3 separate regions of the Homo sapiens genome follow, and regions 2 and 3 are each linked to region 1. The links come from fine-mapping of genetic effects on gene expression. A gene starts in region 1. Each other region holds a variant in brackets. All regions are shown on one strand. Distances are from middle to middle. Region 1 holds the start of STON2 (stonin 2). Region 2 overlaps STON2 (stonin 2). Region 3 overlaps DIO2-AS1 (DIO2 antisense RNA 1).

The links.
Region 2: its variant is fine-mapped to the expression of STON2 in cerebellum (GTEx, PIP above 0.99).
Region 3: its variant is fine-mapped to the expression of STON2 in monocytes (Quach 2016, PIP 0.95).

The regions. Positions count from the first base shown.
Region 1 is chr14:81,397,496-81,403,698 of GRCh38, forward strand. It overlaps STON2 (stonin 2), which reads right to left and starts at 2,829. Exons shown (of 8, transcript NM_001394390.1): 1 at 2,784-2,829; 2 at 800-1,085. The coding sequence starts at 887.
Region 2 is chr14:81,340,246-81,346,448 of GRCh38, forward strand. All of the region lies in intron 4 of STON2 (stonin 2), which reads right to left. Among named protein-coding and RNA genes, the nearest start is that of STON2, 57 kb to the right of the region's middle. The variant T/C (reference allele first, on the strand shown) is at 3,063.
Region 3 is chr14:80,443,525-80,449,727 of GRCh38, forward strand. The region is part of intron 8 of DIO2-AS1 (DIO2 antisense RNA 1); the gene reads left to right. Among named protein-coding and RNA genes, the nearest start is that of DIO2, 240 kb to the left of the region's middle. The variant A/AATATAT (reference allele first, on the strand shown) is at 3,267.

The sequences.
Region 1 (6,203 bases):
TCAGACTTGTCACATTTCAGGGGCTCAGTAACCACATGGCCACCATATTGGAGAGCATACCTGTCGACTCACACTTTCTAGGTGTTATAAATGACGGTGGGATGACTTCAGTTGGCACTGGTAGCTGTAGTAGAACAGAACCAACTCACATGTCTCTGCAAATATCTCCTGGATCCTACCTTGACCTTCATCCCTGAGCACAAGTTCTCCAAAGTCAATATAGTCATCCTCCTTATGATCAAGGATGACCGTACTGAGCTCTTTCCACGTGCCAGGCACTGCTCTAAGCACTTTTATGTATGAATTCACTTAAGCCTCACAGCAACCTGTGAGATAGGTACTGATTATCCCTACTGTACAGATAATGAAGCTATGCATGGAGAGGTTAAATAAATAATCTACCCAAAAGCATATCACTCATCCCTGGTGCAACAGGGATTTGAACCCAAGCACTCTGGCTCCAGAGCCTGTCACTTTTAACAACTACTTTTAATAACTACATTTTAAAAAGGCTGAGAGTAAAGTATTTGGTAAATATTAAGTTTTTGTTTCTTGGGAGAAAAGAGCCACTACCTTTGGTGTTTCCAAGCCTCTTTTTAGGGCCCTAAGGTTCCCAAGATGCTTTTTCAGTGTGTAAATTCTTCCACTTAGGATTCTAAGATCTCAAGAAAGAAAGTGAGAAACTGACCCTTTTTTCTATATTAAGATCCCACCCAAAGAATAATCAAGTAGAAGCCATAACAAATAGACATGGTTCTTTGACAATCTCTTCACTTTAGGAAACGAAGGCACTCCTTACCCTGCGAGTGGGCAGGAAAGGGTGGCTCTTCATTGAAGGAGACCCATTCTGACTGGTGGGTGGCAATCACATGGTCCAAAGTCGTCATGCTAAAAAGGCACTGGTCATCTTCACACTGCTGACCTCAGGTGAACCCCAGAATACTGTCTGGGGTGGGCTGGAGTAGGGGTATGGTAGTACGGTAGACTTGGGTCCAGGGTCTGTTCTAGGTGTCTTGCCAAGGGCAGTACTCAGAATGTAGACAGATCAGCCTCTCTTGCCGTTGGTTAATCTGCCAGGCAGAAATCTGTTTAACAAACAAACAAACAAAAAATTAAAAAGGATAACCATCACATTACACTGAATCCACATAGGTCTAGGGCTTTTAGCGCTGCCCACAAGAAGGCTTGGGGTGGTTTCCAACTTGCCTTACTTCACTCTGTTCCTGTCATGCCCTCACCTTTTATACTGAAATGTCTGTCTTTAGCATCAAGGTTTCTAGATAAGCCTTCATATCACACTTGCAAATAATTACACAAATTTCAGCAATTAGATTCTCTAATTTCCCTAATTATTGTATTTTAGAAATATTGTCATCTATAATACTATCATTGCTAAACAAATATTAAAACTTTTCAAAATGCTTTCACTTTCTCTTACTAGCTGGCAAAATAAAAGCATGTTCTTTTCTATTAAATTAGTCCAGTTTCTTGCCTTAGGCAGGTAACTCTTTATAAACCTGATTTAAATCTCTGGCAGAAACCCAACAATCTCCAGATGGTATCTCCAAGCATGGTTTATCAATCAAGAAAAATAGAAATGAAGTGATCTTGTTCATTTGGAGTAAGAGGATAGGGAACATCTGTGGTAGTGAAAAATGTGAGTTAGAGTAACATTTTCAATCTAGGCCTATTTAAATTAGTTACAATGGTCTAGCCTTTGCTCACACTGCAATTATGTTCTAGGAATACAGAAAGATTCTTAATTGACATAATTTTGTTCATGGTATTAATATCTTTTTACAACCTGAACCTAGCTCTTGATCTAATAATGATTTATAATGAATTAATAAAATCTGAATTTATCTAAAATTAATGTGCTTCCATAGAAGAGCTACTATATACCTTGAACAATATCAGTTCTTATTAACTAAATATACACAATATTCAGATAGTTTCTAGAACAACTTAACTCACAGTCTTCCAATTGCTGCACAATGAAAAGTTTAGGAAATTTTACTACAGGTTATCATCTGCAGTAAATAATCTCTAGGTGGGAAAATCGGTAAAAACATGAACAGCTTTTGCTTTTTTGGTGTTTAAAACAGTTTTGGCATATGATGCTTCCTAAAAACAACTAATGTTTATATAGAATTTATAATTTTCAGAAACACATTTTCATACCATACTTCACTTGATTCAGTAGCCATTTTGATGAGTAGGACTCATAGTACTCTAATTCTTCTATGGATAAAGAAATTTGGGCTGAGAAAAATTAAGTGACTTACCTAATACTTTTAGTGCTTCCAGGCCCTTTTGGTAAAATGCTTCCTCCAGGCTAAGTGGAAGAGTTTACAAATCTCAGCACAGTGGCTGACTTTTCTTCATAATAAGATCTCACCCAAAGAATAATCAAGTAAAAGCCATAACAAGCAGGTGTGTTTGAAGCACCACACTAAGTGATAGATCCAACCCTTGAGCCCAGGTCTTCTGCAGCCAAAACACTCTAACCCTGGTGTCACAGCCGCAAAGAAGTACAACAGAATACAGTACATATAGACTATCACCCAACTTAAGTACTTTACAAATATCAATTACAATGGAACTGTAATGAAATGTCCGGGAAACTCCCCATGTGAAAGTTTGCCAGCACACCCCAAGCTGTATAAAGGATGGGAAGCCCAGAAGCCTCTTCTCCAAGTCCCTCTCCTAGGATCCTTGCCAACCACAAGGCCAGACATAGGCAAACAGCCTGGAGAGAGCAGGTCTCCCAAACCAGATCTTACCAGAGAGCAGTGCAGGGTCCACAAGCACAAAGAGCTGATTCCCACTGGCTTCTGCCTTTGACGACTTTCTCAAGCCCTGTCAAATGTGTGTCACTCAATGTGGTAATGGCTGCGGGCCAAGATAAGGCAGTAAAATTGAAGAGTCAGATTCCTCCTCTTTCAACGACAGCAGCATGTAAACCAGCCCCACAGCACCCGTCAAAAAAAAAAAAAAAAAAACCCACAATACAAGTCCCTATGCTGACACATGCAGTGTCATCACTCAATGGGGAAAACATCCTGCCAATCCTGCAATGATGAACCCAGCAAAAGTCATGGATAAGTGGGGTAGGGAAGAGAACAGGGGACGAAGGTGAAGGTAAGAGGAAAATATTTAAAAATTTTAAACTGAAAGGTTTTAAAGATCAACAACTTCAGGTGTTATGAGAAAACTGAGGCCCAAGGAAATCAGGCACACGAATAGAGATTGTGATCACAGGCCCAGGAGTTAGGTTGTTCGGATTTGAGTCCTATACAGTCTTGGAGTCCTATACAGTCGTGGACTCATAACTCAACCTCTTTAAGCTTCAGTTCAACCTTGTACAGAAAGAATAATAAAACTCACTCCATAATTCCGAGGATTAAACAAGATAATGTACGCCAAGTACTAAGGACTGGATGTAATAAACCCTCTGTAACGATGACAATGAAAACAGCAGGTGACCTTACAGAGGGCTTACTGTGCCCCAGGCTCCATTCCAAACCAATGTTAGCCATCGCCAGCACTGCTGCTATTGTTAAATGACTCGCCCAACGTTGCGTAACTTGTTCGTAGAAGTCTTGGGACTGGAATGCAGATTTCATGAAACCACTGCATTTCTGTCATTTGCAGAATCTGGTTTCAGTCATTGTTCAAAATGCTAAGTAGAGTCATGTGCTCAGCTACAGTGCCCAGAAGGCAGATTCTAAATCCTCTTCATTATAGATATAGGTGCATTCTGGCCAAAGTACCAAGACCATTCCTCAGAACGTATGAACGAAAAAAGAGCCCCAAAACTTTATCTATCCTTCCTTCACTTGTCCCAGACCAGACATGGGCTGGTGACAGACAATGAGTGGTCCCAATGAAGACTGGTGGAACAAATTGATCACATGGAACCCCCCATCATATTCCATACCATAAATCCATAAAATGGATTTTAGGTATTTGCCATGGAAGAGCCACACCAATAAGCCATAAGAAATCAGACCTTGAAAAGTGCTGTGCTAAGCAGCTGGAAACCCACAGAAGAACCCAATAATTGTGAGGTTAAGTTCATACTGGAATTAGTTGCTTGGTAAAAACCTCACCCCATTTTTAGAATGTGAATCATAAAATGAGGTTTAGAATCACCACAAATGAGTGGTGACTCAGTATCAGCAGGAGGATTGACCAACAGATGCTAAAAGTTTCATTGAAGTCTTGGAGTTGCCATTTCAGAGAGCTACTTCTTTCTCAGCATTATACAAAAATTTGTAGAAGGGAGAATGCAATTGTCTGATAAGATGGGGGTCATAGAAGTAGTTTTGTCTTATGACAGTCCTCTAATTGCCACAGTTTAGCCGTAGGGAGATCTCTGAGAGTTGGAACCATATGGGACTGGGTGGGTTTCTGAGATGTGAAGGATGTCCTTGATTCTGGACCAACAGAGGGACAAGTGAGGGAAGCCTCTGGACAGGGGATCACCGCAAGTGACAGTAAAAATCAGAAGCAGACCTTAACAAGGTGTGTTTCTGTCTGAACAAGCCTCTGTCTGATGAGAGCAGAGGTATCTACTGGGGGAATATGGAGTGAAGGGATTGATTGACCATAAAAGCTAAGGAGAGTTCAAGGGGAAATGAGAAGCTGTGGGAGGTTTAAAAGCAGAGAGTGACTCAAGAAGTGTGCTTAAGGGAGATAAGCCTTCCTCAGACAGTGCTGGACAGAAGCGTGGTGATGGAATTTTTCAGCCATCAGTACCTCCGGTGTGTCTCACAAAGTTGGGGGGCACAGTCATCAGGAACATGTACTGTTTCTGCCCATTCTAGGGCCTGAGGGTCAAGGGAGAACAAAACAGCATCTCTGCCCTCAAGCAGCTGTCAACTGCAGGGAGATACCACAGCAACCTAAAACAATAACCTCTGCTCTCTAACCTATTCTGGTGGTTAGTCACCAAAAGTAGGACAGCAGCAAGTAAGAGTGTTAAGAGACTTCTGAGAGCTTGAGCTATAGGTGGTCTTGAACTGTACCCTAAGCCGGAAAGGAGGGGTCTGAGCAAAAGAGCTGAGGGGCACAGGCACTCAGGAAGGGGGAGCAGGAATGGTATGTCTAGCCCACAGTGAGTTACACTCTGTTCATCTGAAGAGGGTGTCAAGCATCCTGGAAAAGGAGCTCTAAGTTTCAGAACGAGTTTGAGCTCTGGAGCTTACCCTCTCCAATCCCACTGCCAATGCCTTGGCTCAGCCCCTCATGATCTCTCACGCAGACAGTTGCAAGTCTCCTACCTGTCTCCCTGCCTTCAGTATCACCTGCTCAAACCTACTATCCAGCCTATTATGGTAGAGTTATCTTCCTAAAACCTGAAAATGGCTATGCTACAGCTCTGCTTACAGCTCCTCAAAGTCTCCTCACAGGATAAAATGAGGTATGAGAAATGAACAAAGGATTCCTGAGAGCAGGGGTTGCATGCTATACCCTCAGCATTGAGCATAGTGCCTGGCACAGGTTAGCAGCTCAATAAAAATTGTCGTATAAATGCAGGCACTTTGTGAATCTGGCCCTGATCCACCTCTCTAATCCCATGTGTCATTCTCTCCCCTTGTGAATCCTATATTCCTGATGAACTGAGTTATTTGAAAGACTGTGTTTTTTAATATACTTTGTCCTATTCGATCACTTGTTCATATATTAATACATTATTAAATACTATATTTGGGATACATTTTCCCTACATTTTTATTTCATGAGCTCCTGCTCACCTTCAAGTCTTAGCTCAATCATTATCTCAGGCTTGGCTCAACAAGCATTTATGCCAAGTGGCAATCACTGAATGCAAAGATAAAGAACACAAATTATTTTGCCATAAAACCTTTATAATATGCATGCTCATTGTCTTTTGCCTACTCAACACCCAAAACTCCTTTCTTTTTCGAGAAAAAAAATATTATCTTTACATCCCTCCTGGCAATTAATCCAGGCTTTGTCAACGGCTGCTAGAATATTGAGGGAATGCTAAAAGGTACAAGGGCCTTGAATACATGCAAGAGTGGCATGCGAACAATGGAAACTTGACCCAAGCCCAGAAGCAGGCACAACTCAATTCCGTGGCAATGGTGACAAGTGCAGCATCCTAACCAGACCCATGGTGTGACTCTGTCTCTGTTTACTGCCGGCTAGGTCCTATGGCTCCTACCTATTTTCCA
Region 2 (6,203 bases), 57 kb before region 1:
AAACTAATTTCTAGCGACAGAAAGCAGAGCAGTGGGTGCTTAGGGGTGGGGTGGGGGACAGAGAGAGAGGAAGTGATTATAAATGCACACGAGGAACTATTGGGGTTAGTGGATACGTTCATTATCTTGATTATGGTGATGACTTCACAGGTGGGTACATGTGTCAAAACTCATGAAACTCCACTCCTGAAAGCTGGAGAGAAACACAATGGCTCTATAGATCTTAAATAGGGCCCTTAAAATCAGGGGAGATGAGCACTACGGATTTCCATAGCTTTTGGCACACAGATGTCTTGTGAGTATTTGTGTCCTTTCAGGGCACAGAGCTGGACCACATTTTCCAGCCCCGCTGGCAGTAAGCTGTGGCCAGGCCCTGAGTTCTGGCCAGTAGGATGCACACTTCCACAGCCCACCCACCACCTAGATGACTCTGAGGACATAGAGTAGCCTGGGTTCCTGAACTCTGGAGCACTGCACACAGACACCAACTCGCACTAACGGTGGCTTGAATGGAAAATGAACTAGGCTGAGTCACTGAAATCTTGGGTTTTTATAGCAGTTAGCCTCCTGGACAAGGACATTATATAAATTATCTAAATACTATTAATATATATCAATATATACTATATAGATTATTACATAACATCTAATCACTAGTGGAATATGTTATATAATACATGTTAATATATTAATAATTGGTATATTAATATTCTTAATACCAATATTAATACTAGTAGAACAGTAGGTAAATCACTGAAACTTAGTAAGTCCTAGTGTCCTCCTCTGTAAAAAGGAAGGACATTTTTCTGCTTACCTCACAGGCTGTAATTAAGGATGAATAAAATCATGTATGTGACAGCTTTTTGAAAACAGACGTTACTTTTCACATACAAGATAATGATCATAACTACTATTACAAATGTCTGTATCTGATTTTCTTAGGCCAAGTTCACAGTTTCACTTCCAGTGAGCACCAGGTGACTTTTGTTCCAAGTCAGAAAGACCTCACTCTTAGCTCCAGCAACTCCCTTCTATTTGATAGGCCTGAAAAGCATTCATCAGGACGGTGCTTGTTGATACAAGAAGGGAGAGGGTTGGGTGGATATGTTTAATTGTAAATTCACAGATAAGGGACACATTTTGCAAAATAAAAATAAGATCAGCTATGCTTCTTGCTTTATATTTCCTCATTTTATAAGTGTTTTTTTTTTGTTTTTTTTTTTTCCCAAAAGTCTGGCCCTGAATCCTATTTCCGGGAGGTCACAAGGGAAGCAAGCCAAGACTGATGTATTACTAACCTAAATCATCACTGCTGGAAAAAGGGCCTCAAAGTGCACTTGAACACTAGCAATTGAGAAGGCACAATGGGAGCAAGTGGGCGTGTATGGGGCACATACCCACTCACCCACAGAGCTCCAATTAACTCCTGGGATTCCTTTCAGACTCTTCTAGATAGTGCTAGTCCACCTACTGTAACAAAAGTTCTGCCAATACTATATTTTAAACAGGTGAAGTAAGAAAGCTTTCAACAAATGTCACTTTTTCCTTTTGGAATCCATAACCCTAATCTAAATTATGCCACAGTAACAGATAATCTCAGAATCTTCATGTCGTAAAATCACAAAGATTTATTTTTCCCATTTATACCCAACAAGGGTCACCTGCAGCTCCATTCCTCATTTTCATTTCAGGGCTCAGGTTGAAAGAACAGATCCTGTCTACAGCATCTGACTCATCCCTGGCATTCACAGGCACTGATCTAGGAGTTCAGATGCTGGCTCACATAATACATGTTTAAGCATTTAAAAGTATAAACCACGCTAGACTGTTAAATTATGTGTTATACTCCTTGACCAATATTATGTTCATAACAACGCAGAAAGCCATAATGGAGTTTTTTTGTTTTTTTTTTGAGATGGAGTTTCACTCTTGTTGCCCGGGTGCCATGGTGAGATCTCGGCTCATTGCAACCTCTGCCTCCCAGGTTCAAGTGATTCTCCTGCCTTAGCCTCCTGAGTAGCTGGGATTGCAGGCACCCACAACCACGCCCAGCTAATTTTTGTATTTTTAGTAGAGATGGGGTTTCGCCACATTGGCCAGGCTGGTCTTGAGCTCCTGACTTCAGGTGATCCGCCCATCTCAGCCTCCCAAAGTGCTGGGATTACAGGAGTGAGCCACTGCGCCCAGCCCATAATGGACTTTTGATTTCTCGGAATCCTTGGAGCTCCACACAGAAATGTCACAGTGCAGGGCAAGGTAGCCCCTGGCCTGAGGCCTGCTCCCTTCCCTTTCCCCGTTCACTGCACTGCTCCAGCCTGCACTGTGAAGGCCCTGTGTGCTGTGTGGGGCCCTCCTGATCCACACATCTGAGCTCTATTCCCGGTCCCCATAAGTCTAGGGGCACACAAGAGCAGCATGGTCCACGCTTAGGTGCACAGATCTTGGAAGAGGCCACAGAAGAGAGCCAGGGTCTGCCTAGGTAGAGGATCCTGGAGTCCCGGGTACATGAACCATGGTCTAGAAGGGGGGGCATGGGGACAAGTGAAGCCAGAGAGCGCCAGAACAGAGTCCAAGCCAGGGTCTGAGGGGCAACCTGTGAGGCAGTAATGGGTGGTTTTGACAGAGGAAAAAGAGTGGTGGTGGAAGCACAGAGAAATCCGCACTGGAAATGTCACTTCCACCTGCTTTCCACTGGCCCCAACACAAGTCAAGCGGCAATGCCTATGTCAGTGAGGCAGGAGAGCCATCCTGTTATAAGTGGAGACCACATCTCAGGGAGGGTAGGGCATGCTTCCTCCAGGAATATCATCTTCTTTCCTTAGATACCAGTACCGAGGGTTTAGGAGAAAACACATAAGTTGAAAATAAAAGTTAACAGCTCACAACTGGTAGCATTCTAAATGTGGTGAAATGACACAGTGCCTTGCAAATAGCAGACACTGAGGGAAAGGGGGAGAATTGGATTGATATATGCCAAAGTGAAAAATGCCCCCCAATCCCAGCATCCTCTGTGGGAAAAGGACAATAATTTGGCAAAAGAGAAAGCAGTAAGTCTCCTGGGA[T/C]ACATTCTGGCTCAAACTAACAATGTGTTGCTTGCGGCAACCAATTTGTACAAACAAATCAGTCCTGGGGAGGGGGAGAGGGGAGGCAACTCATACAAGTAAACCTGGCAGCATCTCCCTTCTCCCACCCTACCCTCCCTCCCACCTCTTCTCAAGAAAGCTTTTCTTCCTGATTCCAATTCTGCAGCAAAATGCCACAGACACAAGCATTTCACAAAGCATATCGGGTGAGCCCACCCTTCAGTCAATGAGAACTGAAAGAATAAAAGAAACCGCCTTTATGAAAACTAGCCAAGGATATCAAATGAAACTTTTTCTAGTTAGATGCAGCTGTTTTTCTACAACCTTAAAAAATTTTCTTCCCATTCACTAAGTCTTAGTTTTAAAATATAAGGCATTCTGAAAAGTACATTATATTGTCATACTCATAAAAGCTACTCCTTATCATATTCCAGGCATTTTATGTACCTGGTCTCACTTAAACTTCAGAACAAACCTGCAGCTCAGTATTGTCATCATTATTATTATTATTTCCATTCTACAGCTGAGGAAACTAAAGGTCAGTGAGGTTACATGATTTGCCCAATATCACAGAGCAGGGAAGTGTTAGAGCTGGTGTTTAACCCTGTTCTGTCAAACTCTGAACACTATGACTTTCCATTATACTATACCTATGTCCTGTAAAGAATACGGAACTAGCATTATGCTGGTGAGAAATTAACCACTAGCTCATGGCTCTTTCATACGGAAAAGACAGAAATATTTGAAAGACTAGCCCTCCCCAAAGCAAACAAGCCAGCCCCTAGCCCCTGAGCAAACAGGTCAGCCCCTAAACACATCTATCATAAAAGAAATTTAAAAATAGTCCCCGTAAGATATTTCATTTTATTTCAAAATAGAAATATTTTCATTCTAATTTTTTCTGATTTTTAGATTAACGTATACTTATTATAAATAACTCAAATTATACAGAAATAAATGCAGTAAGGAATAAAAGTCCTATGTCCTCTAGATAACCACTATTAGCAGTTTGGGATATATCCTATCAAACTTTTTCCTAGATATTTAGAAATATACATATAAACACACACACTAATATAGCAAAATTAAATAGAGGCCAATACAGCAAAATGATTACACATTCTATTCTGTAACCTACCTTTTCAATTAACAATGTAATTGGGATAATTTCCATGACTGCATAGTATTCCACTGTATGTATGTATCATATGTTATTTGACATTTGCTTAGATAGCTGGGCTTTGCTTTTGCTAATATAAACACTGCAGTACTGTACACACAGCCACATGTCTAATTACTTCCTTGGGATAAACTAATAGCTAAAGAGTATGACATTTAGACTGACACTGACTGCCAAGAATGCCTTCCAGAAAGATCTTCCCACAGTTCTCGCATGCAAATTCCCAATTCTCCACTCTCAACACTAGATATTTTCAAGCATTTTAACTTTACCAAGTCAATAGACATTACCGTTTAATCCACACAGCTGATTATTGGGATTAAATGATGTTTTTCATATCCTTTCTTTGCAGTTTTTCTTTTATGAACTAATGTAGTATTGACTTTTGAATTGGCATGTAAGCCAATGAGAGCAGTGGGATAAACTAATCCCTTGGCGAACCACCAAGTCATTCTGTAGGTAAGCAGATGAAAAGGCTGATTGAGAGACTTATTAAACATAAACAACTCTTTCCTCCTTATTACATCTGTGGGAAGTAAGCTATAAATGTTGGATCCAAAACCCAGCTCCTATAGCTTGTGACAATGCATATAATGGGTCCAGAAATACTATATAGGTTGGGCTTACAGTGTCAAACTGGTTATCTTGGGCAGGGTTGGGAGGAAACTTCTGAATTGTAGTTACATAGTATTATGGGCTGAATTGTGTCCCACACAATACATGTTAAATTCCTGACCCTGGTACCTCAGAATTGTGACTGTATCATACAGAGGTATTTAAGATGAAATGAAGTCATTGCAGTGGGCCCTAATCCAATATGTTGTCTTTATAAGAAGAGGATGTTAGGATACAGGCACCACAAAGGGGAGATCATGTGAAGATACAGGGAGAAAACTGGCCATCTCCCAGCCAAGGAGCGGCCTCAGAAGAAACCAACTCTACTGACACCTTGGTCTTGGACTTCCGGACACAGAATTGTGAGAAAATAAATTTCTGTAATCCTAGCACTTTGGGAGCCTGAGGTAGAAGGATGGCTGGGGCCCAGGAGTTCGAGACCAGCCTGGGTAACATGGTGAAACCTTGTCTCTACAAAAAAACAAAAATTAGCCGAGCATGGTGGCACATTCTTGTAGTCCCAGCTATGTGGGAGGCTGAGATGGGAGGATGGTTTGAGCCCAGGAGGCAGAGGTTGCAGTGAACCAAGATCATGCTGCTGCACTCTAGCCTGGGCGACAGAGCCAGACTTTGTCTCAAAAAAAAAAAAATTCTGTTGTTTAAGCCACTTAGTCTGTGGTACTTTGTTATGGCAGCCTTAGGAGACTAATACATATAAGACTCCATATAAGCCTGAGGAAAAGTCAGCTATCAATTTCACAGAAGAAAAGTCCAATGAGCATCCTTGGTACTGCCACTGGAAGGGCTGACATCTTGTTGACAGCCCTGTTTGCAACACTTGTCTGAGTTTCCAGATGCATCACAAAGTGGTGATGTGATTTGTTCTTGAGTCTCATGGCAGATGTGCTCAGCAGCAGTAAATTCTATCAGAGAAAGCTGCTCTTTTCCAGTAGCTCGGTCTCCTGAACTTTTTATGATGTTTCGTCCCTTTGACCCAATGAAAGTTGTGAAGTCATTCTCTCCTTTGAAGCAAATATGAAACATTAACTCTCATTTTTTGGGAAAACTTATCTTAGTATCACATCAAAAAGGAGCTTTTTTTCCAGGACCTGAGTAATTTGAGAATAGAAGGAAGAGGTGCCCCTGAGGTAGTGAGGTGGGTGCAAATGGATCTGTAATGTAAAGAAGAATGTCAGCACAACTTCAATGAGAAGACGGACTACAGGTCACTATAAAAAGAGACCTCAAGGAATTACAAAGACCCAGGCCTTCCCCCAAAGGACTTTGGGACCAGAGAAAAGGATGTATGATCTAAAACTCATTAG
Region 3 (6,203 bases), 950 kb before region 1:
TTCATCCAAAAGATAGGCAATAACAAATGCTGATAAGGATGTGGAGAAAGGGGAACTCTTGTATACTGCCGGAGGAAATGTAAAGCAGTAGTACAGCCACTGTGAAGCACAGTATAGATGTTTCTCAAAAAGATAAAAACAGAGCTACTATATGATCCAGCAATCCCACTGCTACGTCTATACCCCAAAGAAAGGAAATCAGTGTATCAGATATCTGTGCTTCCATGTTTATTGCAGCACTATTCACAATAGCTATGATTTGGAAGCAACTTAAGTGACCATCAACAGATGAAAGGATAAAGAACATGTGGTACATATATACAATAGAGCAATCAGCCATAAAAACGAAAGAGATCTTGTCATTTGCAACAACATGGGTTAACCTGGAGGAAGCTATGTTAATTGAAAAAAGCCAGGCACAAAAAGACAAACTTTGCATGTTTTTACTTATTTGTGGGAAATAAAAATTAAAACAATTGAACTCAGGTAGATAGAGAATAGAATGATGATTACCAGAGGTTGGGAAGGGTAGTAGGAAGTGGTGTGAAATGGGGATGGTTAATGGGTACAAAATTATAGTTAGATAGAATGAGAAAGACCTGGAACTTGATAGTACAACAGGTTGACTACAGTTAGCTATAATTTTTTGTACATTTCAGAATAACTGCAGGAGTAAAATTGAATTGTTCATAACCAGAAAGAAATGATGAATGCTGGAGGTGACTGAAACACCATCTACCCTGATGTGATTATTACACATTATGTGCCAGTGTTAAAATATCTCATGTACCCCATAAGTATATACACCTATTATGTACCCATAAAAATTTTAAATGTTAAAATTTTTAAAAAGAAAAAAAGAACAGCACAAGGACTATGAGATATATTCAGAAATTTGTCAGAGTGGCCCCTACCTCTCTATCCATAGGCTAGATCCACCTAAAATGAGCACTAAAATTAGGATTGGCTGATGGTCTATGTGAGCTTGGACTGACTGGATGACTAGCTGTGTAACCCGGGGCAATTTATATAACCTCTCTGGAATTCAGTTTTCTCATCTATATAAGCTAGGAATTACACTGCTTGATCAGAGATGTTGCTTCCCATTCAGAAAACAATTCTGAATTGACTTTCAGCAAGAACTGGAAGAGTAACCATTGGAGGAAAGACCATGAAGTAACCAACAGGGGCAAATCTCAGTGAAAAAGTCCAACTGCTGCAAAGGTAGACAATTTCAGGACAAAAACTTCTGTGCCACATGGTAGTCCTTTGCAAAAGTTACTTGTTGAATTTCAGAAATTCAGTTCAAAAACTATTATGAGATTATATTAGTCAGGGCTCTCTAAAGGGATAGAACTAACAGGATATATGTATATATGAAGGGGAGTTTATTAGGAGAACTGACTCACATATCACAAGGTGAAGTCCCACAATAGGCCATCTGCAAGCTGAGGAGCAAGGAAGCCAGTCCGAGTCCCAGAACCTCACAAGTAGGGAAGCCAACAGTGCAGCCTTCAGTCCGTGGCCAAAGGCCTGAGATCCCCTAGCAAACCACTGGTGTAAGTCCAAGAGTCCAAAAGCTGAAGAACTTGTAGTCTGATGTTTGAGGGCAGGAAGCATCCAGCATGGGAGAAAGATGAAGTCTGGAAGACTCAGCAAGTCTCTCTTTCCAACTTCCCCTGCCTGCTTTATTCTAGCCACACTGGCAGCTGAATAGATGGTACCCACCCAGATTGAGGTTGGGTCTGCCTTGCCCAGTCCACTGACTGAAATGTTAATCTCCTTTGGCAACACTCTCACAGACACACCCAGGAACAATACTTTGCATCCTTCAATCCAATCAAGTTGACACTCAATATTAACCATCACTGAGATGATGAATATCACAGTCATAGTTTTGAGTACCTGTGAATTTTATGTGTTTATCAGTTTTAAGAATTACCCCCCAAGCCCTAGGATAGTCTTCCCTTAGCCTTAGGTTACCATGATGATATAGCAGCTTGAGCCACCAGTTCTTCTCACAGCAATAACAAGATCTATCCGAGCTTTAACTGTTTTCACACACACCACTGTTTTGGCCTTGAGGTTTACATGTGCACATTATATAGTTTGGATATTTGTCCCCCCAAATCTCATGCTGAAATTTGATCCCCATTGTTGGAGGTGGGGCCTAAAGGGAAGTATTTGGGTCATGAGGGTGAATCCCTCATGAATACCCTGGAGCCATCCTCATTGTAATGAGTGAGCTCTCACTCCATGAGTTCCTGCAAGAGTTTCCCCCTACCTTTCCAGAGAGCTGGTTGCTGAAAAGAGCCTGGCACCTCCGCCTGCTCTCTCTTGCCATGTGATCTCTGCATAGTGTGGCTCCCCTTCTCCTTCTGCAATGAGTGGATGCAGCCTGAAGCCCTCGCAACAAGTGGATGCTGGTGCCGTGCTTCTTGTACAGTCCAAAGAACCAAATAAACTTTCTTTCTTTATAAATCACCTAGCCTCAGGTATTCCATTATGCAACACAAAGAGACTAAGATACATGAGATAGGGTCTATCAGCTCCAATCAACTAGATGGCTGAAGAGCAGCTCTAACAAGGAGAATGCTTCCCTGGATAGGTATTGTTTCTGTTTGCCCAACATCCTTTCATTACAGCATCATTTATCTCTAATGGCATGAGGTTGTGAAGTGGCTTCAATGGCAGAACGCTGCTCCCTTAACTTCAGAGTTCATTATTTTTTTTTCTTCTGGGAATTTGAATCTTTATCGCAAACATGCAGTTGCACAAGGCAGTTAAAAGAAGTCCTTCAATTGAGTGCCCTGGAAGGAAATACACAAACTTTCTCTTTGGTTTTCCAGCTCTCCCTTGACTCTATGAGCTACTTTGTGCCTAAGCTAAACAGGGTCAGTTTCACTTGCTTCCAGACAAAGAATCCTGATGCCAAAATGCAAAAGTGGTGGTCTTTCCAATCAAGTTTTGTGAAGGGAAATGTCAAGATTGTGTTGCATTCCCCAGTCATTTGCTAAGGGGGAGAAAAGAGTGACTCAGAACTAGAACAGAAACCATCTGGCTTAACAAATTTTCCTAATGAGAAAACAATTCCAAAAAGAAGAGACTGACTGGAGATCACACAATTAGTAATTGATAGACCCAGATTCAAAACACCTGATGCTTAAGTCTAGTGCTTTTCTCCAACTATCAACATTTTTAATGGATAATCCACAAAAATGAGTAATTATCTAGTAGTTGAATGCAGACTCTATTTCTAATATTTT[A/AATATAT]ATATATATATATAAAACAGTGATTGCTTTGTTTTTCAATGTTTTAACACATTCGTGCAGTTTAAAAATGTATTTTTTTAAATGCAGTGTAGATCTTTCTCCCACACCTGCCCCACCTGTCCTGTCCCTTTCTATCCTAAGGTAACAACATTTATTCATTTCTTGTGTATGCTTCCAGGGTTTTATTATGCAAGTACAAATATATATGTTTCCTTCTTTTTTTTTTTTTTCTTCCAAGTCAGGGTCTCATTCTGTTGCCCTGGCTAGAATGCAGTGGTGCAAACATGGCTCACAGCCGCCTCAACCTCCCAGGCTCAAGCAATCCTCCTGCCTCAGCCTTTTGAGTAGCTGGGACCACAGGTATGTGCCACCACACCTGGCTACTCTCACTTTGGCCTTCTAAAGTGCTGGGATTACAGGCCTGAGCTACCATGCCTGACCTGTTTCCTCCTTCCTTACACCAAAAGGAGTATACCCTACATACCTTTATGCACCTTACTTTTTTAACAAGAATTTTTATAAATTTTCCACATCATTACATGAAGAACAATCTTACTTTTACAGGTGCATTATATCCCACTATATGGACATATATTAATTTAAGCCCTCCCCAGTTGATGGATATTTAGGTTATTTTCAGACTTTTGCTGTTCAAACAATACCCTTGTAAATAACATCAGTTCATAGCTAAGCAGTATTTCTGTGGAACAAATTTCCAGAAGTGTATTTGCTGAGTCAAAGCAGATGTATGAATTTAAAATTTTGATAGATACTAACTAAATGCCTGCATAAGGGTTCATGTAGGTTTGTATGCTACACCCATGAATCATCAGACCTGTTTCCCCACAGTTTTGCTAACAGTATGTTAAAAAAAAAAAAACAGTAATAGTTCAGTTCAGCTATTTAAGGAAAAGTAATTCAGAAGAGTTAATTTTTTTTAAGTAGTAAAAAAAAAATTCTTTAAAGCAGCTTACCTGTAGATTTTCTACCTTGACCATATAACAAAGAGAGTGTAATAAAAAGCTATCCTCTGAAATCACTCGTTGCAGTTAAGAGATGTGCTCTCGGCCGGGCACGGTGGCTCATGCCTGTAATCCCAGCACTTTGGGAGGCCAAGGCAGGCAGATCACGAGGTCAGGAGATGGAGACCATCCTGGCTAACACAGTGAAACCCTGTCTCTACTAAAAATACAAAAAAATTAGCCGGGTGTGGTGGCGGGCACCTGTAGTCCCAGCTACTCGGGAGGCTGAGGCAGGAGAATGGCGTGAACCCAGGAGGCAGAGATTGTAGTGAGCGGAGATTGTGCTACTGCACTCCAGCCTGGGTGACAGAGTGAGACTCCATCTCAAAAAAAAAAACAAAAACAAAAAAACAAAAACAGAGAGAGATTGATGTGGTCTCAGGAAAGGAAGCAGGATGCATTAGGTTAGCTGCAGAAAGCGTTCACCAAACAATAATCTCATTTATGTTTAAGCTGACCAAGTTGAAACTGCTCAATAAACTGGACTATTCAAATATTGGCTCTTCCACTTCCAACTGTTGACCTCAGGCAAGTCATTTAAACTCCTTTTGCCCTATCTTCAAAATGAAGATTCTTGAGATAAAACATACAAATCACATAAAACAATGTCTGAACACATAAGTGTTCAGTTCATACAGCTATTGTCATATAACTTGCATATCTCTCAGTCATCTTTAATGTGCCTGGGGATATGTGGTAATGAGATTGCCAGGGAGCATAATCTCAAATGCATTTGACGGTATGGAGGATGAAAAACGAGAAGTAGATAACGTAAGGAACAGGAGGATGTATGATCTGTCCACTGCATTCAAATTCAAATTTAAAAAAAACTATCTTGGCCAAACAAAATAATTCTGCATGCTAATTCTGCCTTGGAGATTGCAATATCAAAAATAATTTCAAGATCCCATTTAACTTTATCATTCCATGGTTACTGAAATAGTCATTTTAGCCAGTAATGTCAGCATTCAACCTGGGCTTCACCAGTTAGTCAGCTTTGACTCCCTTCTCCCTTGCTGCCTGTTTATGTGATTGTTCTTTTTTTTTTTTTTTTTTTTTTTTGAGACAGAGTCTCACTCTGTCACCATGCTGGAGTGCAGCGGCACAATCTCGGCTCACTGCCAAGTTCCGCCTCCCAGGTTCACGTCATTCTCCTGCCTCAGCCTCCGGAGTAGCTGGGACTACAGGCACCCGCCACCATGCCCGGCTAATTTTTTGTATTTTTAGGACAGATGGGGTTTCACCATGTTAGCCAGGATGGTCTTGATCTCCTGACCTTGTGATCCGCCCACCTCGACCTCCCAAAGGGCTGGGATTACAGGCGTGAGCCACTGCGCCCGGCTTATGTGATCGTTCTTATATTCTGTTCATGCCTCCATTCAATGAGTCCTTAGCCCTCTTTCCAACATAACTTTTGAATGTTCCATGTCTCTGCCCACTTCCACATCTGTATTAGTCAAATATTGCTGCAAACCTAGAGTTTTACAACAGTAAAGCTATAATTTTCTTGCTCCCTAGTTTGGGGGTCAGCCAGGGAAGGATCTGCTTCAGTTTGTAGTTGGCTGGGCTTCGGGCTTTGAATCACAGTGCAATTTACATTACATGTCTGTCGTTCTCCCTGTACCAGCAAAAGACAGGAGCACAAGAGGGTGGACAGAAAAATACAGTCTCTTGGGGTCTGATATCATTTGGATTTGCATCCCTGCCGAAATATCATGTCAAATTGTAATTCTCATTGTTGGAGAAGGGGACTGGTGGGAGGTAATTAAATCCTAGGGGCAGATTGCCCCCTTGCTGTTCCCATGATAGTGAGTTCTCATGAGATCTGATGGTTTAAAAGTGTGTGGCACTTCCACCTTTACTCTTTCTCCTGCTGCCATTTGAAGAAGGCTTCTGCTTCCCCCTCACCTTTGGC